Linked DNA regions of Homo sapiens. The protein of the gene in region 1 interacts with the protein of each later gene in a pairwise test. Each region holds a gene or a part of one and is shown on either strand. Other genes may lie near its edges.

Region 1 (8,853 bases):
ATCACATACCCAATAATTAAAACAGAGATTTAATTTCGTACCTTGACTGTAAGATCAGATCGTTCTTGTAATTTGTAAGTCTTAGAGAAAAGAAGTCTGATTATCCAGAGGATCAGAATCCCTTCCAAAATAAGATGGTAAGCAGGAGCCTAAGAGTGAGTCAAAAACAAGTAAGATATGAAACATACACTTCTAACACCTGCACATAAAATTTACTACACCTGCATATACTGCCTCCTGTGACTTTTAGCCTATTCTTAACAATTTACTTTCGAAGCTCCCTTAATTTCTATTCATTCCTTTCCCCATTTCTAATAGCAGGCAATTTCTCCCTCACATGAAAAACCCCTAATATTTTTAGCTTTTAAAACTTCTTTGGGAATAAAAATTAAAATTAAAAAAATAAAATCTAGGCCAGGCGTGGTGGCTCATACTTGTAATCCCAGCACTTTGGGAGGCCAAGGTGGGCAGATCACCTGAGGGCGGGAGTTTGAGACCAGCCTGACCAACATGGAGAAACCCTGTCTCTATTAAAAATACAAAATTAGCTGGGTCTGGTGGCGCATACCTGTAATCCCAGCTACTTGGGAGGCTGAGGCAGGAGAATCGCTTGAACCCAGGAGGTGGAGGTTGTGGTGAGCCGAGATCACACCACTGCACTCCAGCCTGGGCAACAGGAGCAAAACTCCGTCTCAAATAAATAAATAAATAAAATCTAACACAGAATCCCAATATTAACCATCGGATTATTTAATTTCAGTGGTTCTTTTTTGGGTACACTATACAAGACTACTCAAATTCTACATTCAACACGCATAGGATTTGGGAGTAAGAAGTTTATGATGAATTTTAAAATTTGCTCATCCCCCTAAATACAATTCATTTATGAATAAGTCTAAATACCCTTTTAGTTTTCTCAATAGTTGGATTCTAGCAAGCAAACATCTGCCCCAGCCACTAGTTAAGAGCCCACTCCAAAAAGAAATCACCCTAAGAAAAGCTGAGAAACTCTCTCTCTAGTGAATTAATAAAAATCACAAACACCACTTCTTTTCCTTCCCAGGAAATGTTACATACAGGAGTTCTCCCAAGTCTCACTGTTGGACAGTTTCGGGGAATGAGAAGTTACACTACTGTCAGTCTTCAAAAAGGGAGCAAACAACATTTAACAGAAAATAATCCATTTCTTTAAAAAATCATTTATAAAAAAGATCATTCAATTTTAGTGGCTCATTTTAGGTCACTACAGTTAACCTAATACTGGGCATCACTTAATACATGAGCATAAGACAGAGCCACATCTGCTGTCTCTGCTGTTTCAAGATAAAATTCCCAGTATGTCCTGCAATGGAAGACACTGTCATTACCCCTACCAGTAGACGGTGATATTAAGTTTGGTGATATTAAATCATCAAAAGTAAAGTGAAATTCACTTGAAATGAATGTAAGCTCTTTAAGCACAGGGACTTCTGCCTATTTGTTCACCGCACTATCCCTAGCATCTAGATCTGTGTGGTCCAATGTGGACAGTCACTAAGTTACACGTGGCTATTTAAGTTAAATTAAAAATTCAGTTGCAGCTGGGTGTGGTAGCTCATGCCTGTAATCCCAGCACTTTGGGAGGCCAAAGCAGGAGGATTACTTGAGGCCAGGAGTTCGAGGCCAGGCTGGGCAACACAGCAAGCCCCCGTCTCTATTAAAAAAAAAAAAAGATTAGTTGGGCATGGTGGTATGTGGTCCCAGCTACTCGGGAGTCTGAGGTGGGAGGATCGCTTGAGTCTGGGAGGTCAACGCAGCAGTGAGCTGATCGCACCACTGCACTCTAGCCTGGGCGACAGAGTGAAACCCTGTCTTTAAAAAATAAAATAAAATAAAATAAGTTCTTCAGTGCCCAATGAATAGCTCTGCAAGACAGCACGGGGACTCTCAGTTATTAAATGAATGAACACTAAGATTGACATTCTGGTTTCTTATTATCTTATGTATCTGAAATAACTAGGCTTCAAAAAACTCTTAACTATTCTTCCTTTAAAAGTCTACGGCCAGGTGCAGTGGCTCAAGCCTATAATCCCAGCACTTTGGGAGGCCAAGGCGGGCGGATCACCTGAGGTCGGGAGTTCGAGACCAGCCTGACCAACATGCAGAAACCCCGTCTCTAATAAAAATACAAAATTGGCCGGGCATGGTGGCACATGCCTGTAATCTCAGCTACCTGGGAAGCTGAGGCAGGAGAATCGCTTAAACCCGGGAGGCGGAGGTTGTAGTGAGCCGAGATCACGCCCTTGCACTCCAGCTTGAGCAACAAGTGCGAAACACCGTCTCAAAAAAAAAAAACAAAAATAAATAAATAAAAATCGACTAAACTAGTTGTATCTTTATAAGACAGAAAACTGATGTACGCAGAAGAATGACAAACTATTTTTTATTCACAAATCCTAAGTCACTTGATTTCTTTTCGACAAAAACAAACTCCAATTTATTACAATTTTATTCCCCAACGAACTGTACCGTAGTTCCAAAGAGCTGACTTCCTTAGGACCTTCCCAGACGAAGGTGTTCCACTCATTTTCACCACTCCGTTTTATCGTCCGTCTAAACTCTGGTTTTTGCAGACCTGTCTCCTGCGTCCCCTTACACGTGTTCCTTTCCGGAGCTTCCAGGGGACCCGGAGCATAAGAATTCAAACCGAGACCCTCAGTCCCAGCCCCCGCCCCCGCCCGTTCCTCCCTACACTCAACCGCTGGGACTAGAAGCTCCCGGCAGTCCTTCCAGCAAGAGGCACCGAGTCTGGGCGTGACCGAGCCAGTCCCGCCGAGGTCTCAGGCCACAAATCCACACGCGTCCTCCCACCCTCCCCGGGCCCGGGTGTGGTCGCGGACCGCTAATGGCGCGGAGCCCACCTCGTAAAGCGCCTGTACCATCTCCACCAGAACCCACTGCTCCGTGGCGGTCGCCATAGTTAGCCGCTTCCTTCCGGAAGGCGGGTCACAAGCGCGTCCCAAAAGTGCGCGTCGCTGCTCAGTGTCGTTATCACCTCCGCAGAGGGCGGGGCGGCGGAGCGCTGGGCACCGCCTACTCGCACTTGCGCACTGGTTGACAGGAGGCTGGACGGGGTCAGGTGGGATGCCGCAGTTTTTCCAAGAATTGTTTACCTTGTGTCCTATTACCCTCCCTGCTGGATTCAGGATGGAGAAAGTAGTAATGAACGGGCCTTACACTTGGTCATCAGCTGGGCGCAGAGAGTTAAAATGATTGCAATACGTTTACTTTATTTTTTTTTTTTTGAGACGGAGTTTCGCTTTTGTTGCCCAGGCTGTAGTGCAATGGCGTGATCTCGGTTCACCGCAACCTCCGCCTCCCGGGTTCAAGCGATTCTCCTGCCCCAGCCTCCCGAGTAGCCGGGATTACAGGCGTGGGCTACCACGCCTGGCTAATTTTGTATTTTTAGTAGAGACGGGGTTTCTCCATGTTGGTCAGGCTGGTCTCAAACTCCTGACCTCAGGTGATCCGCCTGCCTCGGCCTCCCAAAGTGCTGGGATTAGAGGCGTGAGCCACCGCGCCTGGCCAATACGTTTACGTTTAGTAGCATAAGTAATCCAGCAATGCATTATCATTAAGAAATGCATAATTATACACAAAAATAGCCAACCCATATAGCACTTCCTGTTTTGTCAGACATAGGCCAAGGCTTTGCAGGTATTAAATCATATAGCAGTTTGGTAAAGAACCTTTTAGAGCCTTCCAATGCATATGCAAACAGTATGCACGCGCACATACTTAATTGGATTGGATTTCTTAAATATAATTGAGATCATAGGGACAAGACTTTTCTACAACTTTTTTTAAATTTTTTTTCTAGCATTTTTTTCCTAATATATCTCATATTTAATGGCTGAAGACTTCCATGGAATAATTTATGTATATTCATCGTTCCATTTTATGTAAACGTTTCCCTATTGGTGAATACTTATGTTGTTCCCACCTTTCCCCTATTACAAATAATGCTGCCATAACTGTCGATGTTCCTTGTGTGTATATCTTTCTGTGCATGTTGGAGTTTTTCTGACCAGTTTTTTCAACATGGGATATATCTGAAGACTATGCACGTTATTAATTTTGATAAGTACTGCCAAAATGGCTCAACCAATTAAAATAATTTGGAAGTTTTTCTATGCTCTAGTCCATGATGGATATTATCAATCTTTTAAAAAAATTTGCCAGTTTAATGGAGATAAAATGATACCTCACTATCCTTTATTATTGATGCTTCTGGTTACTCATGAGGTTGTGCAGCTTCTTATATGTTTATTGGCATTTATAGACTGTATGAATCGCCAATTCATATTCTTAATCCATTTTTCTATTGGTTATTTTTGCCTTCTTATGGATTTGTAGGAACTCTATACATTCTGAATATCTTATATTTTTCTGTTTCATATGTGAAAAATATTTTTGCTCAGTTGCCGCCTAGTTGTTTCTGCTCTTTCATCATACTTTAATTTTAAATTTTATGTAGTGCTTCAGTCTGTTTTTTGCCTCTGGATCTGCATATTGCTTAGAAAGGCCTTCTTCACCACATCTATGGTTTCCAACCATTCTTGCAGCAGTTTGTTGTTATTTGCAATTAGCTCTTTACTCTGGAAACTATATTTTTGGATAATGAGAGTTAAGGGACTTAATTATGTTTTTTTCTAAAGGAATAACAATTTTTTGAGTGCCATTTATTTGAGTAACCCTGACTTTCCCCAGAATTCTGAAATGGTACCAGTGCTATTGATACAGGAGCCAAAAAGAAATTATTTAGGCAGATAGTGAAGGTAAGAGAGTCCTCAGCAGAGCTTCTTTCTGAACAAAAAGCAACCCCAAAATTATTTCTTTTTTGCAAAGAGCAGCCTGAAAAATTGAGCTACAAACATAGATAAGCAAGCTGGCAGTGCACGGGAGAATGCTGGCAGTTGTGCCGATAGAAAAAGACTACCTGGAAGCCAGGTATGTTCAATATGGAGACTCCATCTTCCATTTTCTTTGTCACCACGTGTACAGTGAAGGAACAGGCAACATGGCATCAGTCAGGTAGAGAAGCCATCTGCAGAATAAAATATTAGGGTGGGAAGGCCAGCTTCTTCATGCACTATGCAAATGGCACACCTGGTCCAACCAGTCTTTCATTCCCTACGTAAATCAAACGCCACTTCCTCAAGCTCATCTATAAAACCCTGTGCGTTTCACCGCAGAACTGGCAACCCATTTTCTCTGGGACCCCTTTCTCTGCACAGATAGCTCTTCTCTTTCGTTTGCCTATTAAACTTCTGCTCTTAACCTCACTGTGGTGTGTCGCGTCCTAGTTTTCCATGGCTGTGGGACAATGAACCTCAGGTATTACCCCAGATAATGATGCCGCTACACTATGTGCTACATTTCCACATAAGCTGGCGATATGGAGTCCGTGTCAGTGCTCTGCTCACAGTCCTGTGCTTGCGTGCATTTCCTCCCCCGGGTGCTTTCCTTCCAGCAGCCACGCCTGCATTTCTCAGAGGACCCCCTTGAAGGCTGCCATTCCCACGTTTCCTGCTCTCCTGGAGAGTTGGAAGTATCTGAGAATGTATCTTCTCCTGGGCAGTACTTACCAGTGTGGATTACTGATGGTAGCTGGGATATAAATATTGCAGCTTCCTTGCCCTACTTAGCAAGACAACTCTGAGGGGTGAACTTCACCATACTCTCTGCAATTCTGAGTCAATGGTACTATCTGCAAATTCTTTTACACACTCATCAAAAGGCATATCTTTGTGGCAGCTTCTATAAGAGAATACAGCTGCCATGTAGAAAGATCATGTGAGAACCACATAGAAGGGGAAAGAGATGACTAAGGGGCCCCAGCTGCCCCAGTCCCTGGCTGTTTGAGTCTTACTAGTCCAGGTACCAGACGTGTGAGGGACGACACCTTCGAGGTGGCTCCAGTTCCAGCCACCATCTGGTTACCACCACTGAGAGACCCTGAGTGAGGTATGCCTAGCTAAGCCCAGATGACACCCAAATGTGTGGGCAAAAATAAACGATTGTTATTGTTCTAAGCCACTGTTTTGGGATTGTTATATTTTGGGATAACTGGAAGGAATACACCGTGGGACTTTGCTTGATTTGGAACTTTTGCTTGGCCTCTGTATCAGTTTCCTAGGGCTGCTGTAACACACGATCACAAACTGGGTGCCTTGAAACAGCAGAAATTTATTCTGTCACATTTCTGGAGGCCAGATGTACAAAATTAAGGTGTTGACAGGGCTATACTCCCTCCAAAGGCTCTGGGGGGAGAAGACTTTTTTTGCCTCTTCCAGCGAGAGCCTTAACTTAGTTACATCTGTAAAGAACCTTTTTCCAAATAGGCCATGTTCCCAGGTTCTATTCCCTGATTCGAATGTTAACATGTCTTTTTGGGCTCTACCATTTAACCTACTATAGTCCAACCTCTGGCCTTCCAAATTCACATCTGCCTCATGTGCAAAATACATTCATTCCGTCTCAACATCTCCAAAAGTCTTAACTCTCACCTAAATATCATAAAAATTAATTCAAAGAGTCTCAAATATTCACATATAAATAATCAGGTGTAGGTGAGTCTATGGGTATGAGCTATGCAAGGGCAAAATTCCTCTGCATCTATTGACTAGTGAGACTAGAAAAGAAGTTACCTGCTTCGAAAACACAAAGGTGGGCCACGTATATGATAGACAATCTCACTGCAAAGCAGAGAAATTAGAAGGAATAAAAGGGTCATCAATCCCAAGCAAGTTAGAAATCCAACAAGGCAAAGTCATTTGGTTTCAAGGTCTGGGAATAATCCTCTGTGGCTTGAAGCTGTGTCTTTTGGGCTCATGGCTTCATAGGCCTCTTTGCTCATGGCAACTTGGTAGGTCTCTGCTCTTGAACATTCAGCCTCTACCCCTGTGCCCATGACCCTGTCCTCATAGTGATTCTTCCTTTTTCTTGAAGGGCAGCACATGCTGATACCTGAGTAGTTCTATCAGTCCTCTTCTTGCCTGAAGAATTGTGCATATCTGACAGCCTCTCTTTCACTTTGTCCTGTCTCAGCCCCTTCAGGCCAAGCTGACAGTGTTTCTTCTGGTACAACCTTCTCAAGAACTTTTGAGGCTCCCATGTATGTCACAGGGATCCATGCCATTAGATAAAAGAACCCCCACAGATCTTTCCTGGATAACGCTGGATCTATCCTTGGATCCGTGAGATAATTGAGGGATCCATCAGTTGTATAGCAGATCTCTTCAGCACAATATTGTCTAGGCACACCCTCGGCCCTGTATCCAGAGTACACTTTCCCAACAGTGAGTTTCCCAATTTTAGCATCTTTTGCAATCTGAATAGGCCGAGAAGCTCCCAATCATCAAGTGTTGTTTCTTTTTGCTTAACAGCTCCTTCCTCAATTTGCTTATTTCCTTTTCTGTTTCATTACAAACAGCATGAAGAAACCAGGCTGCATCTTCAACACTTTGCTTAGAAATCTCCTCAGCTAAATATCCAAGTTCATTGCCTACAAATTCTGCTGTCCACCTAAGGACACAATTCATCCAAGTTATTTGCCACTGTGTCACAAGGATCACTTTGCCTTCAGTTTCCAGTAACATGTTCCTCATTTCCTTCTTAGCCTTCAACATAAACCACTTTTAACATCTGTATTTCTACTAACACTCTGCTCATGATGAGATATACATTTCTAAGATGATGGAAGAATTCTCTACCATGCTCTTCACTTCCTTCTGTTCCCTCACCAGAATTGCCTTTAAAATCCATAACTCCACTAACAGTCTCTTCAAGAAATTCTATGACTTTTCTCTCAAGTACCTCAAAAACCATCCAACCTCTATTTATTACTCAGTTCCAAAGTCACTTCCACAATTTGAGGTATTTATTAAAGTAGCACCCACTTCCTGGTACCAAAATCTGTATTAGTTTTCTAGGGCTCCCATAACAAATTGCCACAAACTATGTGGCTTAAAACAGACAAAATTTTTTTCTCCAAAGTCTGGAGATCAGAAGTCCAACATCATGGTATTGACAGAGCCACTCTCTTTCTGAAGGCTCTAGGAGAGAATCATTCTTTCCCCTTCCAGGTCCTGGTGGCTCCAGGAATTCTTGGCTTGTGGCAGCATCACTGTAATTTCTACCTTAATCTTTTCATGGCCATCTCTTCCTGTATGTGTCTCTCCTCTGTGTCTCTTATAAAGTCACTTCTCATTAGATTTAGGGCCCACCTGGATAATTCAGGATGATCTCATCTTGAGATCCTTCATTACATCTGTTAGGACCCTTCCACCAAATAAGGTCACATTGACATGCTCTGGGGTATAATAGGGCTCTCCAGGGAAACAGGATAAATAAAACATATATAGATCTCTACATAAGAGGAGATTTATTATAATGATTGGCTTGGCCAGGCGCAGTGGCTCATGCCTGTAATCCCAGCACTTTGGGAGGCTGAGGCGGGTGTATCACCTGAGGTCAGGAGTTCGAGACCAGCCTAGCCAACATAGTGAAACCCCGTCTCTACTTAAAATACAAAAAATTAGCTGGGCATGGTGGTACGCACCTGTAATCCCAGCTACTTGGGAGGCTAAGGCAGCAGAATCGCTTGAACCCGGGAGGCGGAAGTTGCAGTGCACCGAGATTATGCCACTGCACCCCAGACTGGGGGACAAGAGCGAGACTTTGTCTCAAAAAAAAAAAAAAAAGGCTCACATGATTATGGAAGTTGAGAAGTCACACAATCTGCCATCTGCAAATTGAAGAACCAGGAACATCAGTGGTGTAATTCAGTCCTCGCCCAAAGGTTTAAGAACC
Region 2 (4,906 bases), on another chromosome or scaffold:
CCTGAGCAGCTGGTGTCTCCTGTCGGCAGGGCAGAGAGATCTCTTGACCAGCGGCTGATGGCTGGCATGGTCTTGTCTTCTGCCCCAGCTTGAAAGATTTAACAGTACCAGATTTAATCTGGATAACCTGGCTGACTTGGAAAACTTGGTTCAAAGACGGAAAAAGCGACTGAGACACAGAGTCCCCCCCAGGAAACCTGAGCCCCTGGTTAAGGTGAGTGGGAGGTCGGGGTTAGGGCAGTGCACACACCAGGGCTCCAGTTCCAGAGGAAGGGCTTGGGGCAGAGTGGGCACTGCAGGCCAGGACCACACAGCCAGTGCCTGGGGAGCCCATTAAATCCACTCCAGAGCCCCCGCGGATGTGTCCGCCAGGGCTGCCATAACAAAGTCCCACAGCCTGGACAGCCTCAACAGCAGGCATGTGTCACCTCGCTGTCCTGGGGGCTGGAAGGCTAACAGGAAGGTGTTGGCGAGGCTGGTTCCCTCTGAGGGTGGTGAGGGAGAATCCCTTCATGCCTCTCCGGCTTCTGGTGGATGCTGGTGATCTTTGGCGTTCCTTGGCTTGTAGATGTATCACCCAACTATTGCCTTCATGTTTGCTGGGCGTTCTGCCTGTGTGCATGCCTGTGTCCATGTGTCTCCCCCAACTTTTTTTTTTTTTTTTTTTTTTTTTTTGAGACGGAGTCTCGCTCTGTTGCCCAGGCTGGAGAGCAGTGGCACGATCTCGGATTACTGCAAGCTCTGCCTCCCGGGTTCATGCCATTCTCCTGCCTCAGCCTCCCGAGTAGCTGGGACCACAGGCACCCGCCACCACGCCCGGCTAATTTTTTTTTGTATTTTTAGTAGAGATGGGGTTTCACCGTGTTAGCCAGGATGGTCTCAATCTCCTGTCCTTGTGGTCTGCCCGCCTCAGCCTCCCAAAGTGCTGGGATTACAGGCATGAGCCACCGCATCCGGCCCACGTGTCCCCTTTCATAAGGACATCAGTCACATTGGATTAGAGCCCACTTTAACACAAGTCATATTGGTGAGGGGCCCACCATACGCCGGTGTGACCTCATCTTAACTAATTACATCCTCAGTGACTCTGTTTCCAAATAAGGTCACATTCTGAGGTACCTGGGGTTAGTACTTCATACGAATCTTGGGGAGATACAAGTCAATCCATAACACACACGCTCACACACACACAGTCTATTCAATCTCCTGGCGTGGGATTAGAATAAGAAACTGCATTAGTACGAGCCAGCAGTGTTCCTTGGTGGGCTGCATGGGACCCGTGGGCCAGACTGGTGAAGCTGTGACATCTTGGGCACCTGCGGCCTTCGGGAGTGATTTGGTCTTGTCTTCAACTGAACCAGCCGCAGTCCCAGGCCCAGGTGGAGCCTGTGGGCCTGGAGATGTTCCTGAAGGCAGCTGCTGAGAACCAGGAGTACCTGATTGACAAGTACTTGACAGACGGAGGGGACCCCAATGCCCATGACAAGGTAGCACAGGTTGGGTGAGTCGGCTGGCAGCAGCTGCAGCTGCAGGAGCGCTGCCTTCAGTGTGTTCAAGTCCTGGCCTAGGAGGCTGCAGGGATTTTCACTCTTATGGGCATGAATCCAGTGGCACCTGCAGACGGAGGAGAGGGAGCGGCCCATCGCGTGGTGGGGGAAGTGGCAATTCCATTCAGGGACCTGGCCCTGGGAAGGGGACCGCGTGGGGTCTCTAGGGGTGGCTGCACTCCCTCTGCCTAATCTTCCATCTCTGCCCTCAGCTCCACCGCACCGCCTTGCACTGGGCCTGTCTGAAGGGTCACAGCCAGCTGGTGAACAAGCTGCTGGTGGCAGGTGCCACAGTGGACGCGCGAGACTTGGTGAGGATGGGGAAAGGCCCAGCCTCTGGTCGACGCCCAGCTTCACATCCCAGCAGCTGAGTGCTTGGGTGCTTTTGTTTTGCAGCTGGACAGGACACCTGTGTTCTGGGCCTGCCGCGGAGGACATCTGGTCATCCTCAAACAGCTGCTTAACCAGGGAGCCCGGGTCAATGCCCGGGACAAGGTGAGGGGCACGGTGCTTTGGGGGCCTGTCGGGAACACGGGAGCAGACGCTGTTCCTGGAGAAGAGAGCACGTAGTCCCATGGGTTAGGGAGGCCTCACCAATCCAGACCCAGCACTGACCCCCACTTGCTCTCAGATCGGGAGCACCCCCCTGCACGTGGCAGTGCGCACCCGGCACCCCGACTGCCTGGAGCACCTCATCGAGTGTGGCGCCCACCTGAACGCACAGGATAAGGTAAGGCAGGCGCTTGGTCTTTTCCGGCTCGGACAGCTCCAGAGGAGCAGGGACTGAGGAGCCCCAGCCAGGACCAGAGGTGCTGTCTGCTCGGTGACAGCAGCCCTGACCTTCCTGCATGAGGAGGGCAGCACGCGGAGGCAGAAGCTTGACTGCCTGCGTTCTCAGCAGGAAGGGGACACGGCTCTGCACGAGGCCGTGCGGCACGGCAGCTACAAAGCCATGAAGCTACTGCTGCTCTATGGGGCCGAGCTGGGGGTGCGGAACGCGGTGAGTGTGGGCGCAGCCCTGGCTCCTGACCCGAGGGCGGGTGGAGCGCCTGCAAGGGACTGACCCACACCGTTGCTCCCAGGCCTCCGTGACCCCGGTGCAGCTGGCTCGAGACTGGCAGCGCGGCATCCGGGAGGCCCTGCAGGCCCACGTGGCGCATCCCCGCACCCGGTGCTGACCGCAGCACCGCCCCCCGCCGCGCCTTTCGCACTGCCACCATTCCATCCTGTGCCCCGCCCCCGCGTCTGCACCTCTGTGGTTCCTGCCCTCAGCCCTGGTTCCTCCCTCTCTGGCCTGTGCCGCCTCAGCAGCCCTGGCAGAACTGAAGAGCGGCACCGGGCCCAGCAGGCAAAGAGAGAGGCCTCCCTGGCTTCGAGTGTCAGGGGAGCCGCGTTCCCTCCCAGGGCTGGAGCAGAGGACCACAAGGCAGCAGAAAGCGCGGGTCCAGATGAGGGCCAGGAAGGGGAGGAGAGTGAGGGCCAAGAACGAGCCTTAAGGGAGCAGTCCCAAGCTGGAGCCACCCAGGGCTGGGTCTGGGAGTCCTCAGTGTCCACTTGTCCCAGGTTAGGGGGCTTGCCTTGCTCTCTCCAGGGCCAGTCTGTGTGTGTGGGGACTCAGCCCGTGGCCGGCAGATGCCATCCAGGATGTACAAGGTGCAGCCAAGGCAGGCCATGCAGGGGCCGGGCCTGTCTGCAGCTGGTGGATGCCTGTGGGCATGGCTTTCTCTGGGGACCCCATTCCTGTCAGTAGCAACCCTGGCAGTGTCCGGAGCGGCTCTAGACAACTTTGGTCATAGGAACTCTGGAGGTGGGTTCTGGTCATCTGAGGTGGCTACTCAACAGGTTTGAGGCCCCACAGCAACAGAAGTCCAGGACCCACTAGGTTGCCTCAGAAGCCCTAAGACTGATGAGCTGGAGCGCGCATTTGAGAGAAGCCTCGCACCCACTGTGTACTGGCCCCGCTCAGGCCGGCCTGGCACACCGTTGCCTGCTGGCGGCTCTCATGGGGAAGCGCCTGGGCACTGGGGATTGCTTGTGGCCCACTCAACTCTTGGGGCAGTGGCCCGTAACCCTAGTTTGCCTGAGGCCCTTATGTCCCCTTATGTTCCTGGTACTGGAGCTTGAGCTCTTGCCTGGAACGCTGCAGCTGCACCCACCCTGCTTGATCCCACCTGGGAGGCCAGGACACTGAGGAGCTCTGAACCCAGCCCACAGGGAAGCAGAGGAAGGTGAGCCCCCGCCGCCCCCCAGCCCTTCCCATCCCTTCCCTGCTCCCTGGTGGTCTAAGGACCCAAGCTCCCTAGACTTCCTCTTCCACCGTCTGTACGTTTCAAATTACACTGGTGTAGGCCTGTACTGCTGGTGGGGCTGGGCCCCTAAACGCCAGAAAGTGAATCTTAAGAAGCTCTGCCCTAAACTGAGAACCACATGCTGAGGGAAGGGCTGAAAGGTGAAGGCTCAGCCTCCCTCACATGGGTCCTGGGTTACATTAGGTACCGGGCTGATTGATAGGCATTTGGCCATGGTTCCTTTTCGTCTACCTTTGGGGGCCTTCTCAGGCCCAGAACAAGGCTGTTGTTACTATGTGGAAAAGCTGACCAGTGCTGCACACTAGGGGCACACACCTTTCCATGAGCAGCTCCTGCCCTGTGGCGACAGCCAGCGTGCACCCAGACGCTGGTGCCATGGCGAAGCAGGCGTTCAAGACCATGGAGAAGACAACTCCTCATCTAGAAAATGAGGACACCTCAGTGACAAACACACCTTTTTATACCAATCAGTATCCTCTGTTCATTAAAACTGGCTATCCATTACAGCCTAGCCGTCTTTCCTGGGCCGAGAGGAGCCCATGCTTCAGTCACCAGGGACTGTCTGATAGGGCCCACGCCTGTTAGCCATGCCGGCCGACAGCAAGATAGGCCGAGTGCAGAGTGGGCGGGATGCGGGGTCCTGGCACTAGGCTTTTGTGCTTAAGGCACCTCTGCTCACTGACGACAAGGTCAAAGAGCAGTGGTTCTCCACCTCAGCTGCTTATCAGAATCACCAGGAAGGTTTAAAAAGTCCTGATGTCCAGACCCTAAGTCAGAAGCCCTGAGGGGAGGATCCAGGTATTCTCATGCAGAGGCCATGCTTGTCTATGTGGGAAATCCTAGGAATCTACAGAAAGCAGACAACTAGGGAGTCCAGCAAAATCTCGGGTGCAAGATAAACACACAAAAACCTGTTTCTACCTCCTAGAAATGAACATGTAGACACAAAAGTTAAAAATATGTACTGTTTACAATTGCTGAAAAAGGGAAATACTTCGGTTTAAATCTAACAAAATATGCAAGGACTTGTATGCTGAAAATTATAAAACG
Region 3 (8,296 bases), on another chromosome or scaffold:
TGTCAGATCTAACAGTGGGAACTGCAGTCACTCAACTACAAAATTTAAATACAATGGGAATAATTGGATCCCAAGGTGGCAGAGGCCAGGTGGCAGCACTCAACCATCAAAGGCAAGGTGGGTGTAGCTACCATAATGGACGGAAGAGGCAAAGCGGCAATCAGAATAGACTGACTCCTGTAGAGTGCTGGCACTGGCTAATTAATTACAGTGTTCCTAGAATTAAAATTGATAGGAAGCCTACTACATTCCTACCTAATTTTCATAAGCAGAAAACTTCTAGGTTGAATGGACAAGACTAATTTGAATTGTAAAAACAGAATCACGGCCCCTCAATCAATTTCCAGACTTGAGCCAGTTTACAAACCCAGAACCCCTTGAATAAAGGGAAGGCCAGGTCCCCTTGAGGAAGGACCCCACTACATTACTGACAATTTATGTAGTGAATCTTTTTTTGATATGCAGCCTTGCTCTGCCGTCCAGGCTGGAGTGCAGTGGTGCGATCTCAATTCACTATGCCGTGAATCTTTTTCCCATCCTTCCCTATGGAGACCTCTGGCCTTTTACCAAGGTAACTGTGTACTGGGGAAAGGGAAATGATCAGACATTTTGGGGACTACTGGACACTGGCTTTGAGCTGAGGTTGATTCCAGGGAACCCAAAACATCATTGTGGTCCTCCAGTTAAAGTAGGGGCTTATGGAGGTCAGGTAATTAATGGAGTTTTAGCTCAGGTCTGACTTACAGTGAGTCCAGTGGGTCCCCAGACTCATCTTGTGGTCATTTTTCCAGGACCAGAGTATATAATTGGCATAGACATACTTAGCAGCTGGCAGAACCCCCACATTGGCTTCCTGACTGGTAGGGTGAGGGCTATTACGGAGGGAAAGGCAAAATGGAAGCCATTTAGAGCTACCTCTAGCTAGAAAAATAGTAAATAAAAAAAAATCGCATCCCTGGAGGGATTGTGGAAATTAATGCTACCATCAAGGACTCGAAAGACGCAGGGGTGGTGATTCCCACCACATCCCTGTTCAACTCTCCCATTTGGCCTGTGCAGAAGACAAATGGATCTTGGAGAATGACAGTGAATTATTGTAAGCTTAACCAAGTGGTGACTCCAATTGCAGCTGCTGTACCAGATGTGGTTTCATTGCTTGAGCCAATGAACACATCTCCTGGTACCGGTATGCAGCCAGTGACTTGGCGAATGCCTTTTTCTCCATTCTTGTCCATAAGGCCCACCAGAAGCAATTTGCCTTCAGCTAGCAAGGCCAGCAATATACCATTACTGTCCTGCCTCAGGGGTATATCAACTCTCTAGCTTTGTGTCATAATCTTATTCGGAGAGACCTTGATCGCTTTTCGCCTCCGCAAGATATCACACTGGTCCATTACACTGATGACATTATGCTGATTGGATCCAGTGAGCAAGAAGTAGCAAATACATTGGACTTATTGGTGACACATTTGCATGCCAGAGGATGGGACATAAATTTGATTAAAATTCAGAAAACTTCCACCTCAGTAAAATTTCTAGGGGTCCAGTGGTGTGGGACCTTTCAAGATATTCCTTCTAAAGTGAAAGATAAGTTGCTACATTTGGCCCCTCCTCAAACCAAGAAAGAGGTACAATGCCTAGTAGGCCTATTTGGATTTTGGAGGCAACACATTCCTCATTTGGGTGTGTTACTCTGGCCCATTTATCGAGTGACCTGAAAGGTGGCCAGTTTTGAGTGGGGTCCAGAACAGAAGGCTCTGCAACAGGTCCAGGCTGCTGTGCAAGCTGCTCTGCCACTTGGGCCATATGACCCAGCAGATCCAATGGTGCTTAAGGTGTCAGTGGCAGACAGAGATGCTGTTTGGAGCCTTTGGCAGTCCCCTATAGGTGAATCACAGCAGAGACCTCTAGGATTTTGGAGCAAGACCCTGCCATCTTCTGCAGATAACTACTCTCCTTTTGAGAGACAGCTCTTGGCCTGTTACTGGGCTTTGGTGGAAACTGAACATTTGACTATGGGTCATCAAGTCACCATGCGACCTGAACTGCCTATCATGAACTGGGTGCTTTCTGACCCATCTAGCCATAAAGTGGGTCATGCATAGCAGCATTTCATCATCAAATGGAAGTGGTATATATGTGATTGGGCTCAAGCGGGTCCTGAAGGCACAAGTAGGTTATATGAGGAAGTGGCTCAAATGCTCATGGTCTCCACTCCTGCCACCCTGCCTTCTCTCCCCCAGTCTGCACCAATGGCCTCATGGGGAGTTCCCTATGACCAACTGACAGAGGAAGAGAAGACTAGGGTCTGATTCACAGATTATTCTGCACAATATGCAGGCACCACCCAAAAGTGGACAGCTGTAGCACTACAAGCCTTTTCTGGGACATCCCTGAAGGATAACGGTGAAAGGAAATCTTCCCAGTGGGCAGAACTTCGAGGAGTACACCTGGTTGTGTACTTTGCATGGAGGGAGAAATGGCCAGATGTGCGATTATATACTGATTTATGGGCTGCAGCCAATGGATTGGCTGGATGGTCAGGGGCTTGGAAGAAGTATGATTGGAAAATTGGTGACAAAGAAATTTGGGGAAGGGGTATGTGGATAGACCTCTCTGAGTGGTCAAAAACTGTGAAGATATTTGTACCCCACGTAGGTGCTCATGAATGGGTGACCTCAGCAGAGGAGGATTTTAATAATCAAGTGGATAGGATGACCCGTTCTGTGGACACCACTCAGCCTCTTTCCCCAGCTGCCCCTGTCATTGCCCGATGGGCCCATGAACAAAGTAGCCATGGTGGTAGGGATGGAGGTTACTCATAAGCTCAGTAAAGTGGACTTCCACTCACCAAGGCTGACCTGGCTACAGCCACTTCTGAGTGCCCAGTTTGCCAGCAGCATAGATCAACACTGAGCCCTCGATATGGCACCATTCCTTGGGGTGATCAGACAGCTACCTGGTGGCAGGTTGATTATACTGAACTTCTTCCATCATGAAAAGGGCAGAGGTTTGTCCTCACTGGGATAGATACTTACTCCGAATATGGGTTTGCCTATCCTGTATGCAGTGCTTCTGGCAAAACTACCATCTGTGGGCTCATGGAATGCCTTATCCACCATCATGGTATTCCACACAGCATTGCCTCTGACCAAGGCACTCACTTTATGGACAAAGCAGTGCGACAGTGGGTTCATGCTCATGGAATTCACTGGTCTTACCATGTTCCCCATTATCCTGAAGCAGCTAGATTGACAGAATGGTGGAATGGCCTTTTGAAGTCACAATCGTAGTGCCAACTAGGTGACAATACTTTGCAGGGCTGGGACAAAGTTTTCTGGATGGCCATGTAATGCTCTGAATCAGCATCCAATATATGGTACTGTTTCTCCCATAGCCAGGATTCACAGGTTCAGGAATCAAGGGGTGGAAGTCAAAGTGGCACTACTCATCATCACCCCTAGTGATCCACTAGCCAAATTTTTGCCTCCTGTTCCTGTGACATTACGTTCTGCTGGCCTAGAGGTCTTAGTTCCAGAGGGAGGAACACTGCCACCAGGAGACGCAAGAAAGTTTCCATTAAACTGAAGTTAAAATTGCCACCTGGACACTTTGGGCTCCTCCTACCTTTAAGTCAACAGGCTAAGAAGGGAGTTATAGGTGCCCACCACCACACCCAGCTTATTTAAAGAAAAAATATTTTTAGTAGAGATGAGGTTTCACTATGTTGGCCAGGCTGATCTCAAACTCCTGACCTCAAGTGATCCGCCTGCCTGGCCCTTCCACAGTGCTGGGATTATAGGCATGAGCCATTGTGCCCAGCCTGACCTAGCTGTTCTTTTAAAATTTACCAAGACTATTTTTGTTATTTCCTCACAGATTTCATATGGCAATGGAAATTACCTTCACATCATTTTTTTGCAAATGGCTTCATGCATCCCATTGATCTGCCTTTATGTCTGCCGGCTCCATCTAATAATCAGAGCTGGACCCAGACTTTACCTGCTCTAGGAAACATTCCTTGATTTAAGACTCACAAATATACATATAGTACATCCACCCCTGGTGCCTTCTCTAACCAATTATTTACTCAAAATCTCCACTTAGATGTTTCATAGTTCCTCAAACTCAACATGTCCAAACCTGAACACAAGACCTACACTCTAACCACTCATATTTAATTTCTTTACCCAAGTTTATCTAGGTCAGTGAATGGACACCTTGGTTACCCAGTTGAACAAGCCAGAAGCTTGGAGGTCATTCTTGAAGATTCCTTTCCCTCACCCTGATAGGCTACCATTCACAAAGTCTGGGGGATTGTATCTCCTAAATATCTCTTGCATTGAGATACTTCTTTTTAACCCCACTGCCTTCATCATAATCTAACTTAACAACTTCTCATACCTGAACATTCGAATTATTTGACTCAAGTCTACTTGCATCTAAATCCCAGGTATATCTGACATCCATCTGATCATATCAATTCATCAAATGGTTTCACACTGCTCTTAGGGTAAGGAATAAAATTTCTCAAAATCTTATTAAAATAATTCGACTCTAAACATAATTTTTTTTTCTAAGACTACCCTTTTCCACTTTCTTTGACACAACTGAACTAGATCTCATCTGAGAGCTTTATTCTGTTTCACATGTATGGAAGATTTACATTAACAGCCCCACTCTTCCCCATTCCTTACATCCATACACTTTGCCATGTAACATTTCAATGCTCTCCCACTGTTGGTAACATGTAATTCCCTGACGCTGAGTTCAACTGAGTGACTTGCTTTGGTCAATAAAATTAGACCAGATTCAGAGCCCAGGCTCCAAGAGGCCTTGCATGTTTCTACTTGTCCTCTTGAACCTCTCCCTTCACTGTATAAAGAATCTGCTTAATTGATCCCATGGACCCATGGGAGCCCTTTGATCCCATGAGCAGGATAAGGAACATTTGGAGTGGAACTGCTCAGCTAAACCCAGCCTAGACCAAGTCACCCCCAGGGAACACAGAGATTTATAAGAAACAATAACTGTCTGTTACTTTAAGTGGTTTTTTATCTAGCAACAGCTAGCTGATACACAGACATAACAATTTGCATTTCCCTATGGCTTGGTAAGTATCTTCTACCTTTGTTGGTACAATTAGGCCAACAAGGATTAAAATCAACAAAGAATGTGTACATGGATGTTATCCTTACTGCTATGAATATCAAACTATTGCTTGAGGATTGAGGTCCAGTAATAAAACAGCAGCTATTTCTCCAAAAAAATCCTCTGTGACTTTTCAAATGAAATGAGGGCTTTCCTGCCAATCCCACAAGTCAGGAAGATAAAATTGGGCATGGATCTTTCCCTTGCTGCTGCAGAAACTCTTCATCCCTGTCAGAGATGGCAGATCCATTGCTACAACCAGGGGGCCGTGCTGAAAGTTCAGAGCTGGTTTTGGAAATGACACAGTCTACTTCATTCTGGATAAGGGCACAGTCTGTCATAACAGGTTATTTTAAAGGTCACCCTAGATTTAACCAGGACATCTTGTTCCTTTCTTTTATCCTCCAAATTTTTCTTTGAAAAGCTGTTGCATATCTCTGGCCTTTCTATTTTCTCTACCAGACAAAACCTATTACTAAGTGGATGTTAATTAAGCCACAGGGCCAAGACATTGACAATTCAAAATGAAAACTATGACTGCATATGGCATTGTATCCTGCCCCCAAATGCTGTGCTCTTAAAGGGAGACTCTTGAAATGAAAACTCGTGCACCTATAAATGCGAAGAGTGACTTGAGTGCTATAAAACAAAGTGCACTGGTTAACACACCGTCAGCTTTGTTATGTCAGGACAGAAATAAAAATCTAATAGTAAATAGTCAACAGATGTCATAGCACCGGAGAAAATAAATGCATACACACCTGGATGGGTGCAATTCTTCTCCCTGAAATAAATTTTAAGAACATATGTTTTAGTCTTGCTCAAACCCATCCCAAACTCCAAAGCAAACATGTTGAAAGGAGAAACAATGAGCCCTCCTAGTTAAAACATGTTTTACATTTTGGTGGGATTGGAAATTTGAATAACTGGCTCTTTCTCCCCTTTTAAATCAGTGACACGACGTTGTCTTTAAATAGTGTGCATTTGCAAGAGGGCCCCCATTGCTCTCGGGTACCTGACAGACCATCGGTAAGCCTGGCCTTGGTGCATCCTTTCTCAAAGTGCCTCTAAGGACAGAAGAAAGTGAGCGAGATCATTTTCTTTCCTCCCCAGATTGCTGCCCTCCTTTCACTTAAGAGCCAATGCTTCCTAAAGAGAATGTGTCCCCTCAGTGTGACTTCCTGTGCTGTCTCCTTTTTAGGATCTACTGGCCCTTGGGGGAACTAAGCAACTCTGAGATCTATTTTGCTTTGTGGTTCAGCAACTGAGAGGCCGGAGGCTTAGAGCTGTGTTACCTGAGGACTAGGGTGTCGTAGGGTGGGGCTGGGCAGGAAGTGGCCTTCTTGCTGCCGAAGAGAGGCCTGGTGAAGGGACCCTTCATTGACAGGCTGAAGCTCAGGAGGGAGATACTTGTCAGTGGGCCGGGTTTGGGGCTCCAGTGAGTCAGCTGCATTCAGGGCCCTTTCAGGTTCAGAGGTCAATCTTGAGTGGAGTCTCAAGGGTGACAGCAAGTGTGAAGAATCCTTTGGGCTTCCTGGCAGGCTCTTCGAAAGGTAACATGGGAAGCCCACAGGAGCTCCCCAGCTTCCCCAGGTGGTCACCTGCCAGGCATCCTGCCTTGTCCCACAGCCACGGGTCCTTAATCTCCTCAAAGTGGGCGAGGTGGAGATGCGGCCTGGGGCTTGCCGGTCAAACTGGAGGAGACTCCCCTGGTTCTTTGGCAGGCTCCTCAGCGAGGGCCGAGGAGAGGCTCCACAGTCTTGGGGTGGCACCTCTGGACAGAATGACTCTGTTTTCTCCATAAAGCTAAGAGGTTCTACTGTTGGTAGAAGGTTCCAGAAGACGTATGAGTTGCTGTTCTCTGGATCACATGGAGGGTGCTCAATTTCTGCATCCAAGTGCCATGCTTCCTCTCGTAGTTCTTTTCCTTTTCCAGAGGAGAATGTCAAGCAGGTTATTGCATCTGTAGTGAGGAAGAGCAGACTGTGAAATATGTAGCAAATGAGGGAGACTGCAGTGAGAAAAAAGGTCTAAAATTTCAAAGGAAAACTTCTAATTCTTCATAGGCAATAGAGCTCAGTTCACATCAGCATCCTTTACGTTCAGAAGATAATTAATATACGTGACTCCAGCCTTCTCATCTAAATAGCGTATTGAAGTCTGTTTACTGTCTACTTAATATTCCTTCTAGGTTCAAACAAAAAAGCCTTTAAAAACTTTGGTAACTTAAGGTACTTCCTGGAAACCACATAGCTCCTCCCCTTGTGATTATTCCATTTTAAGAGAATCAAATATACATTAAATCCTCCTTATCATCTACATTTATGTATGTATGTACATATTGTGGTGCATTCTGGGGATGCAAGAACAAGGAAAACAAGCCTCCTTCCCTCAAGGTTTAAATTACAGAATGAGACAGGCTTTGAAGGTAACTGATGTAAAGTATCTGACAACGTCTTTTATCTTAGATTCTATCAATCTTTACATTTTGGAAAAAGGACTTGCAGGTTTGAAAAGAAAAACCCAGACATCACCAGGTACCCTACTGTTCATGATTGGAGGTGTTTTTTGCAATCTATGCATGCAGAATTATCTCTTCTCATGCTCAAGAAAAGCTGACCCTTCCATTTCACAGCTTGATTCATGGGAGTGGCTTATTGCAGTTTCGTTATTCTGTACTTTCCCACATGAAGAAGGTATGTGTGGGAAAACATCAATCCTTACACATCCCTTATGGCATGAGAGTTGATGCTTGATGATTTGCAGACCAGGTGTGGGACTGTGGGACAGGCGAGAGACCCATCTTCCCTGGCCGCAGATGGCATGGGAGGTGGCTTCAGACTGTGCGTGGATTGTTTGTGGATGGAACATTAGTAGTTGACCGTATATTCCAAGATCATCAATAATAGTTTTAGTAAGTTTATCATTCTAAAGCAGAACTCAGCAATCTGAAACCCTTTGCCCACATTTGGATAGCCAAAATTTAAGAATGGCTAATAATTTACTTCTTATAATTTTAATTGCATGGGCAATACTTTTTAGTAGAACTTTTCTAGGGTGTATTATTTGCTTCTTTAACTTGATATAGAGAAGGCTGAAAACCAATAAACCTTTTCCTTATAACCTGACCTCATTCTGTTGACTA
Region 4 (9,005 bases), on another chromosome or scaffold:
TCCTGCCACTTCTTGCTATGGAGTGCTGTACCAAGGTCTCTGCTAGTTTCTAGTTGGCTTGACATAATGACTTTCCTAAACTTCTTCTGCTCTGAATCTCAAGCATGGAAAGCGGTCACATCTTTTGTTTCACGAATTAACAGTCAACACCTGGCCCTACTTTTAACAAAACTTAGTAAAGCCTTGAGCATAGTGAAAGACAAATATTTAAATTATATATTAGCAGGAGGCTGAGGTGGGAGGATCATATGAGGCCAGCCTGGGCAGCATAGCATGACCCCCCCCTCGAGAAGACAACAAAAAATTATCTGGGTGTGGTGGTGTGCTCCTGCAGTCCTAGCTATTCCAGAGGCCGAGGCGAGAGGATCGCTTGATTCCAGGAGTTCAAGGCTGTAGTTAGCGATAATCGTGTCACTGAATCCTAGCCTGGGCAACAGAATAAGACCCCATGTCTAACAAAATAATAATAAAACAATCAAAAGTTTAAAATTAGTTATTAAATGTCAGTGTGCCCAGAGTCCTTTGACCACAGATGATCCTGATGGCCTTCTCTCGCCTTGTCCCTGTGCCTCCTTCTACCATTTTTCTTCCTGAGATTCAAAAGTAAGTAGCGGACAGGGTTCCCATTTACCACTAAATACTTCAGTGGGTGTTTCCTAAAAGGACATTTATAGTACCATCATCAAAATCAGTAAATTAACCCTGATACTATTATCTAATCTGTAGACTTTATTGAATTATATCAGTTGTGCCTCAAGTGTCTTTATGTTTTTTTCTCAAAAGAGAAAAAGTTCTGGTCCAGGATTTGATCTAAGATCATGCATTGTATTGAGCTTTCCTTTCTTTTAAGTCTCATTTAATCTGGAGATGTTAATCTGTCTTTGTCATATCTTTGACACTATTGAAGAGGACTGGCCTATTATTTTGCAGAGTATCTGATTTTGGGTCATTTCATGTGTTCTCATGATTAGATTCAGGTTATGCATTTTTGGCATGAATTCCATAGAAGGGCTGTTACGGTTCTCAGTTCACGGTATTAGAAGGCACTTGATAGTGATTAGTTCCATTCCTGATGATGTTAACTCTGATCATTTGGATAAAGTGGCGTCTGCCAGGTTTCCCTACTGTGCAGTTACAATTTGCTTTTTGTAATTAATAAAGTGTGTGTGTGTGTGTGTGTGGAGGGGGGGTGTTTTTGCTTCTGAACGCATAATATTTGAGATTTTTTTCTAATTAAAAAGTAATTATTCAAAGAGTTCAGAGAACTGATACTGATCACATTCTTTGACCCCACATGCAAATACATTATAAACTAGTAATAAAACGGTAACTAGAAAAATGTTCATATCTTTTGGAATTAAAAAAGTGTTTAACTCGTGGATCAAAGCAGAAATTCTGTAACCATTGTCACAGCAGGTTCTAACAAGCAAGTTTAAGGAGGAGAGAATTTCAGTCCTAGAGAATTTCAGTCTTATTCAAATGCTTTCCTAGAAAGAGGAAACAGTTCCTAACTAATTTCATGAGGCTGGCATAATCTTGATAACAAGTCTGATAGGTAAAGTATGAAAGGAAAATTGCAGGTCACTCAATTATCACTCAAATATCTACATGAAAAATTCTAAACAAAATTTTAGCAAACAAAATCCAACAATTTGTAAAAGTGATAATACACCACGACCAAGGTGGTTCAAGTCAGGAATTCAACGTTGATTTTGGCGTTAAAAAATCAATCATCAGGCCCAGTGAGGTGGCTCACTCCTGTAATCCCAGACTTTCTGGAGGCTGAAGGAGGAAAGATCCTTCAGGCCAGAAGTTTGAGTCTGCACTGAGCTGTGACTGCATCACCGCACTCTAGCCTGGGTGCCAGTTTGAGACCCTGTCTCCAAGAAAAAAAAATTAATCAGTGTAATTCACCACAGATTAAGAGTTCAAAAGAGAAAAATCACATGATCATCTGAATAGAGGAAAAAGCTTTTGATAAAGTTCAACATCCATTCATAATAAGGACTCTCAGCAACTTAGAAGTATAAAAACACTTTTGGAAATCAACAAAGGGAATTTACAGCATGAACAAACAGCAAGCCAGCATGGTGGCTCACACCTGTAATCTCAGCACTTCCAGAGGCCAAGGCAGGAGAATCACTTGAGCCCAGGGGTTAGAGACAAGCCTTGGCAACATAGCAAGATCCTGGCTCTACAAAAAATAAAATAAAATGAAATAAAATTTAAAAATTAGCTGGGTTTGGTGGTGTGTGCCTGTAGTCCCAGCTACTGGGAGGCTGAGGTGAGAGGATCACTGGAGCCCAGGAGGTGAAGGCTGCAGTGGGCTAAAAACAACCAGAACAACCCCCCAACCCCCTCCCCGCAAAACACTATAAAGAATAGCAACACAAGGTTCAATGTAAACTTTGATATGGTGTTTTACCTCTGAGGAGAGGCTTATTGTTAATATTCTTTAGCCGTGTAAGGGGTTCACAGATGTTCATACTTTTGTTCTTTATACCTTATATGTATTCTATAAATATTGTTTCTACTCAATAGTTAATAAAAACATAATTTAAAAGTTCTGTGAATGTTTTTACTCTGCTCACTTTTGAGGGGCCTTTTGGGATATGCATTTTCTATTCCAAGTTGATCTGATATGTCATGCCTGCCACACACATTCCCATGGGAACAACTTCTTAATGTCTTTTGTTTCTGCCTTGGAAGCCATCCTGGTGCTCTGGGAAAATCCCTGCACTAGCATTTTCTTTTTCTTTTCTTTTCTTTTTTTTCTTTTTCTTTTTTTGAGATAGAATCCCTTGCTCTGTCTTTCAGGATGGAGTGCAGCCGTGTGATCTTGGCTCACTGCAACCTCTGCCTCCATCCAAGCGATTCTCATGCCTCAGCGCCCCCACACCCTCCCCAGTCCACCACAGTAGTTGGGACTACCAAGGCGCGCACGACTATGCCCTCTCACCATATTGCCCTGGCTGGTCTCCAACTCCTGAGCTCAGGCAATCCACCCACTTCGGCCTCCCAAAGTGCTGGGATTATAGACGTGAGCCACCGCACCCGGCCTGCGCTAGCTTTTTTTCTTTGTTTCTTTCTCTTTCTTTCTTTCTTTTTCTTTCTCTCTCTCTCTCTTCTTTCTTTTTTTCTTTCCCTCCCTCCCTCCCTTCCTTTCTCTCTTCTCTCCCTTCCTTCCTTCCTTCCTTCCTTCCTTCCTTTCCTTCCTTCCTTCCTCTTTCTTTCTTTCTTTCTTTCTTTCTTTCCCTTCCTTCCTTCCTTCCTTCCTTCCTTCCTTCCTTCCTTCCTTTCTCTCTCTCTCTCTTTCTTTCTTTCTTTCTTCTTTCCTTTTTTTTCCCCGAGACAGAGTTTTGCTCTTGTTGCCCAGGCTGCAGTGCAGTGGCATGATCTCAGCACACTGCAACCTCCGCTTCCCAGGTTCAACTGATTCTCCTGCCTCTGCCTCCCTAGTAGCTGGGATTACAGGGGTCTGCCACCACGCCCGGCTAATTTTTTTTGTATTTTTAGTGGAGACGGGGGTTTCACTACGTTGGCTGGGCTGGTCTCGAACTCTTGACTTCAGGTGATCCACCCACCTCGGCCTCCCAAAGTCCTGGAATTATGGGCATGAGCCACTGCTCCCAGCCGGCACTAGCATTTTCTAAGCCAATGACTGAAGAATAGTTTTTTAACTTCGGTGAGACTGTATCCATAGAGCTGGCGTCTGGATCAGATGAGAAGAAGAAAAGCGCAGCTATGTGCTTTCAATATATACGTTATTTAATGTGAATAGGTACTCTTCCTAGGTACCTTAAGATTTTAGAATAGGCAGTAGGCAGTTAATGCAGTCCAGAGTGGGGTAGGTGGAGCTTGCGGAGAAGGAGCAACTCAGACTTGCACATTCCCCTGTGATGAGTCATCGTGGCCTGTGTGCATTTCAAAAGCTATGTACTGAGACACCAATTCTTAGACAAGTTAGCAGGAAAAACATGTATTACCATAATTATCATAATAAGGGGGCTAAAGGAAAGCAAAGTGGCAGGAGGACTGTATCCGGCCAGACTAGCCTTTGGAGCATCCCAATAAAGGAATCTCCCAAATGGCCCCAAGATGCTCCCTACACTGCCAGGGGTAGGTATTTGAATCTGTCTGTCCTGGAGCAATCCGCTCCTTGCACCTTTGTCCTCTCCTGTCCATCCACAGCTGCCCTGGCCTGGTTCCTGGGGGCAACCGTGCTTTTAAGCAAGGGGGCAGCAGTGCTGCTCTGGGAATGCGAGTACAGCTGGAAAGGTTGAGTCACCCCTTTAGGGGCATGGTAAGAATGCCTGGTATTTCTTCAATTTTGATGAACCAAAATAGTGACAATTGCCCAAAGGCGCAGAGTCGATAATAAAGAGTGCGGACACTTCCGGAGCGCCAGCTGCCCAATAGAAATGCAGGCCACGCTGGGGAAGTGTGGAGCCGCAGCCCAGGATGGGGAGGGCCGGAAAACAGAAAAGGATTCGCGTTCTTTTTACTCTGTGGAGAGTGAGCCCGCGGACTGTAGCCTGGGCCTCGCCAAGTTCCTTTGTTCTTTGTTTTCTTTAAATTACCTTTTTTCTTTTTGTCTTAAAAAATACACATGGGTGAAAAAGAAACGAGAGCTCCCTAGAGATCACTCAGAGCTGTTTTCGTGGGTTTTTAACTTCCAGTTGCTCAAGGGTCCACGCTGGCATCTGGGGTGTGCTCGCACCTGCGAAGAATCCAGCTTCTAGGGAGCACCGCGAGCTGGTAAGTTGGTCCTGCTCCATCGCTAAACCTTCCAGCCTTAGTTTTTCATTTCTGGGGAGTCTGCTGGCTCGGGAGGAGGTGGGGCACTGGTAACACAACCCCACCACTCCCGGGAAGATCCCCGCACCCCCATCCCGGTCTGCTTTCTCTCCCTTCTGAAGCAGGAGAATAAGGGTCTGGAGGAAAATCCCAACTTTCCACAAACTTCCTTTGTAGCCCCTCCTTTTCTACATGGCAGATGAAAAACTGAAAATACCTCTGATTGGTCCCCTCCCGCAACCAATCAGACTGGTCTCCAGGGCCAAGTCTTCATGTGCATAGGAATGTAACTTTGTAACTTCGCTTTCTGCGTCCAATCAGATGTTTTCATAGGGCATAACTTTGTAACTTCACTTCAGCCTCCCATTGATCGCTTTCTGCAACCATTCAGACTGATCTCGGGCTCCTATTTCATTTACATTGTGTGCACACCAAGTAACCAGTGGGAAAACTTTAGAGGGTACTTAAACCCCAGAAAATTCTGAAACCGGGCTCTTGAGCCGCTATCCTCGGGCCTGCTCCCACCCTGTGGAGTGCACTTTCGTTTTCAATAAATCTCTGCTTTTGTTGCTTCATTCTTTCCTTGCTTTGTTTGTGTGTTTGTCCAGTTCTTTGTTCAACACGCCAAGAACCTGGACACTCTTCACTGGTAACATATTTTGGCAAGCCAACCAGGAGGTAAGCCCAAAGTCTGGGATTTATTTTTCTCCTTTCCCTTTTCCTTTCTGCTCCATACAGGTAAATCTCTCTCTTTCTCTTTTCCTTTCCAACGTGGGATCCTTGGTGGGTAGCGCCTAGACACGGAGGCGACTGCAGGTTTCTGGCCGGGGGCTACTCTCCAGTGCTGCCTTGAAGGCCAAGGAGTGAATGGGGATAGTTGCCCTGCCCAGAAGCGGGAAGGGCTCTTTTCTGTCTTTTCTGGTTGTGGTCCCTGATCCCTATGTGTGACGCAGCTTCTCCAGGGCGAACTCACACGTGTTTCAGGTGACTTAAACCTTCTTTCCTTATGTTAAATTCTTCCCTTCCCCTACTCTACTGGCTAAGGTTAAAAGAAACCCACCTAGCCTCCATTTCATATCATTAAAGTTCATGACTATCACTCTAGTGGAATGGGAACCATGGGAAAGCATGGCCTTATCAAATTATAAGGATGCTAGAAGTCAAGGCCTTCATCCAGAGACAAAAGGAAAGCTCACAGTAGGCCATCCCCTCTGGAGGGAAAACATGTAAAGTGGCACTGGTGACCACCTAAGGTCAGAGACGTCTGACGCTCTAAGATTGGACCCTAAAGGGGGATGCTCTGGAGGATCCTTTGGACCTCAGCCTCTCCAAGGGGGTTCCTTTGGTAGAGGTTCTTAGGCCTAGTACTAAGCCCTCCTTAGAATTTTCTCTTCCGGTTGCAGTAGTGTTTGGCCTCAATATTGTTTGGAATCTGGAGTTTGCTGTTGAATGGTAAAGTGGGATGGAGTTGCATGTATGCAGGCTCTTGTGCTGCTGTTCTAAGCAGGGTTGTGTCGGGTTAAAGTGTGATGTTCTCCTTTGGTGCTGTTTGGCCTCAGCGTTCTTTGAAGTGCGAGGAAGTTTGACCTTTAAAAATCAAACTGCCATGGAAACCGCTGACTTATAAATTGCTAAAGTTGTTTATAACCAATGTTTGGTTTCTCAAATCCATATTCCTGGGAAGACAATCAAAGCTTCAGGTACATTTGGCTACCCGATGGGCCATTTAAACATTTACAAAGGGATTTTATTCAATGTCACTTTCAATGCATGTTTTCTTGTTGTATAAAAGCTTTTCCCATGATTATGCTACAGTGTATTTTCACCAGGTAAAGAAAGCTTTTTATGGTTCACTGAGAACAATCAACCCCTTCACAACCTAGAACCCATAGGATAGATGTTCTCAGAACATCTACTGTAAAGGCCATAGTTACACAACAGACTTTAAATTCTTTTGTGAAAGTTATGATAGAATTGGCTGAACAGAGAAGTATCTGTGCAGCTGCTGGCACTTAGAGTCTATGGAGAAATACATTAAATGAAGATTAAGAGATTCAGTTGTAGGGGATTAATGAGGAGATTGTTTACTTAAGTTGGTAGATTCTTTATTTAGTTCATTATTTGATCTATTTAATTTTAACTGGTTTGGTTTATGGGAACCCTGGGCAAGGAGCATCCTCCAAACTCTTGGTATTATCCTCCCAATAGTCATCATAATAATAGGCTCCCTGGTGCACTGTATTCTCTCAAAGGTTTTCGATGTTTGCATGCAGCCATCTCTAGAATGTCAAATGGTCTCTCTTCAACTGGAATGATGAGAAGTGAAACAAATATGCGACCATGAGGACACTGTAACCTATGGATGGTGTGCTGAGACTGGAAACCCAAAATGATGGTAACTGAGAGCGGCGCTAAGGCCTTACGTTTTGGTTACATTCTCACCTAAGTGAGAACCTGAACAAAAAGGGGGAATTTTAAAAAACAAAATTGTGAAAGGCCAGTGTTTTGGACTGAGCTCATGGCCCCAACAGACCAAACCAAACCAAAATGGAGTTGCTCATTCTAAGACTTTAAGGAAACACATAGATCCTAGAACAGACCAAGTTTTTGTTTTTCTCCTGCAAACAGAATGTTTCAGTGAGCAGGACACCCTCCACCGGTAACACTTTCCTGTCTCTGTAGCAACTTCTAATAAACTGCAGGCTGTTGAGGACTTCAGAATGGTGGACTTGGAAGCTATAGGTCGGGTGGAACTTTTGCTCCTGCATGGGCTGGGGAGCAGCCCAGAAAATTTAAAGCATTACCAGAAAATTTAAAGAGCTGTGGGGCCAGTGAGCCAGGGATCTGCAGTGTTCAAGCAGAGCTAGAGAGGCAGGGAGGGCAGAGTGCTCTATGGTCAGGCCAGGCTTGGTGGGTGTCCAGACCTCCCAGGGTTATCCATCCTCCTGGAGTCCTGAACATGCAGGGAGTTGGGGAATAGGTTCTTTAGGTGAAATGCGACCAGGCACTGATGAACTGCATTGCTAGATCCTAAAAGAAAAACCAAGCACCCTCATGCCCTGCTGGTTTATTATCTAGAAGGCGGGAAGGATGAGAGCAGTGCTGTCCTGAACTAAATGCAAAGTGACATCCTAGGAGGGCAAAGAGTGTTGCATGATTTTTGTTTCCCAGGAGGTAGCTCTTACAACTTCTGTCCCACCCTGTGGGCAGTTCCTACTAACCTGCTGTTCTGACATAACTCTAAGGAGATCTGAATGCTGTCTCCTTTCCCATTAAAGATAGCCAACAACAAAGCCTAAATAGTGAGTTCAGGTCTGATAGAATTTCCCCTATAGTCAAAAGTATAAAGGATTTCAGTGGAAACATCTAACCTGTAAACCTAGACCCAAGGTTTAAGGGAGGCCAGTAAGTTTTAGGCCCTAGGGATTTGGTAAGCTCAATCCCCAGCTCATTTTTTAAGGGTTTTGTCCCAGATGTATGCTTGAAGGCAGTGATTTTCAACTATGGAAAGTTTTACACAGCTGCAGATGTTGGACTGGGGTGACCGGGATCCCAGGCTAGTTCACAAGCGCTGGGTCCTCTATAAGGTGGCTCAACTGCAGCTCCCATGGGTTCCAAGTTTCTCAGTGGTATGAGCACCCTCCTTAATCAATCTGAGGGTGAGATGTGATTTCTGTCCCCTTCTGTGTATGGTGGGTTAGGCAAAAAAGTTTACACAGAGCCCAGCCTGATGTAGACAGTGCAGAAAGGTGGGCTAAGAGGAAAGGGGACAAGACTCTAGTTAGAGAGGCTGCAAAAAAGAATCGGGGAGCAGAGCAGAGGCTGCTTGGTGAGGCATTACCAGAAAATTGTAGGGCTGGGGCTGTGCGCCTGGGTAGAAGTGGAACTGATTCTCCTGCAGCCTTTGTGGGTAGAGATGGAGAATCTCTTCTGTCTGGTCAACAGGGAAGGTGGACTTGCCTTTGGGGCAGCCTCATGTGCAAGAAATATGAAGAAATTGGGTCTAAAGAACACTAATTGTGCTATAATACTAAGGAGAAAGCTCAGCATGGCAGAGATATACATCTTCCTCTGCTTTCTAGCATAATTATGCCACATTGAGACTACTATTGAGTTTTAAATTTAAACTTCAATGATTGTGCTTACCTGGCTTCACTCTTGTTCAACTACCAGGAGTCAGGTCCTCCCCACTTAGGTTCTCTTTTTTT

What was found.
Region 2: the proteins of SPTLC1 (region 1) and ANKRD23 interact in binary tests that used the Homo sapiens proteins (3 or more experiments, as listed by UniProt).
Region 3: the proteins of SPTLC1 (region 1) and PLEKHG7 interact in binary tests that used the Homo sapiens proteins (3 or more experiments, as listed by UniProt).
Region 4: the proteins of SPTLC1 (region 1) and SLFN12 interact in binary tests that used the Homo sapiens proteins (3 or more experiments, as listed by UniProt).

The regions. Positions count from the first base shown.
Region 1 is NC_000009.12:92,112,414-92,121,266, forward strand, and holds the start of SPTLC1 (serine palmitoyltransferase 1), read right to left. Parts: upstream 3,001-8,853; 5' UTR 2,958-3,000; coding exon 2,901-2,957; intron 2,654-2,900; exon of another isoform or gene 2,509-2,653; intron 150-2,508; coding exon 42-149; intron 1-41. UniProt on the Homo sapiens protein: Component of the serine palmitoyltransferase multisubunit enzyme (SPT) that catalyzes the initial and rate-limiting step in sphingolipid biosynthesis by condensing L-serine and activated acyl-CoA (most commonly palmitoyl-CoA) to form long-chain bases.
Region 2 is NC_000002.12:96,837,368-96,842,273, reverse strand, and holds the end of ANKRD23 (ankyrin repeat domain-containing protein 23), read left to right. Parts: intron 1-88; coding exon 89-214; intron 215-1,361; coding exon 1,362-1,487; intron 1,488-1,759; coding exon 1,760-1,858; intron 1,859-1,943; coding exon 1,944-2,042; intron 2,043-2,178; coding exon 2,179-2,277; intron 2,278-2,448; coding exon 2,449-2,547; intron 2,548-2,629; coding exon 2,630-2,725; 3' UTR 2,726-4,362; downstream 4,363-4,906. UniProt on the Homo sapiens protein: May be involved in the energy metabolism. Could be a molecular link between myofibrillar stretch-induced signaling pathways and muscle gene expression.
Region 3 is NC_000012.12:92,705,289-92,713,584, reverse strand, and holds part of PLEKHG7 (pleckstrin homology domain-containing family G member 7), read right to left. Parts: intron 7,115-8,296; coding exon of another isoform or gene 6,954-7,114; coding exon 6,447-6,953; coding exon of another isoform or gene 6,432-6,446; exon of another isoform or gene 5,936-6,431; coding exon 5,913-5,935; coding exon of another isoform or gene 5,870-5,912; exon of another isoform or gene 5,036-5,869; intron 1-5,035.
Region 4 is NC_000017.11:35,428,658-35,437,662, reverse strand, and holds the start of SLFN12 (ribonuclease SLFN12), read left to right. Parts: upstream 1-5,162; 5' UTR 5,163-5,475; intron 5,476-7,049; exon of another isoform or gene 7,050-7,192; intron 7,193-9,005. UniProt on the Homo sapiens protein: Ribonuclease which is part of an E2/17beta-estradiol-induced pro-apoptotic signaling pathway.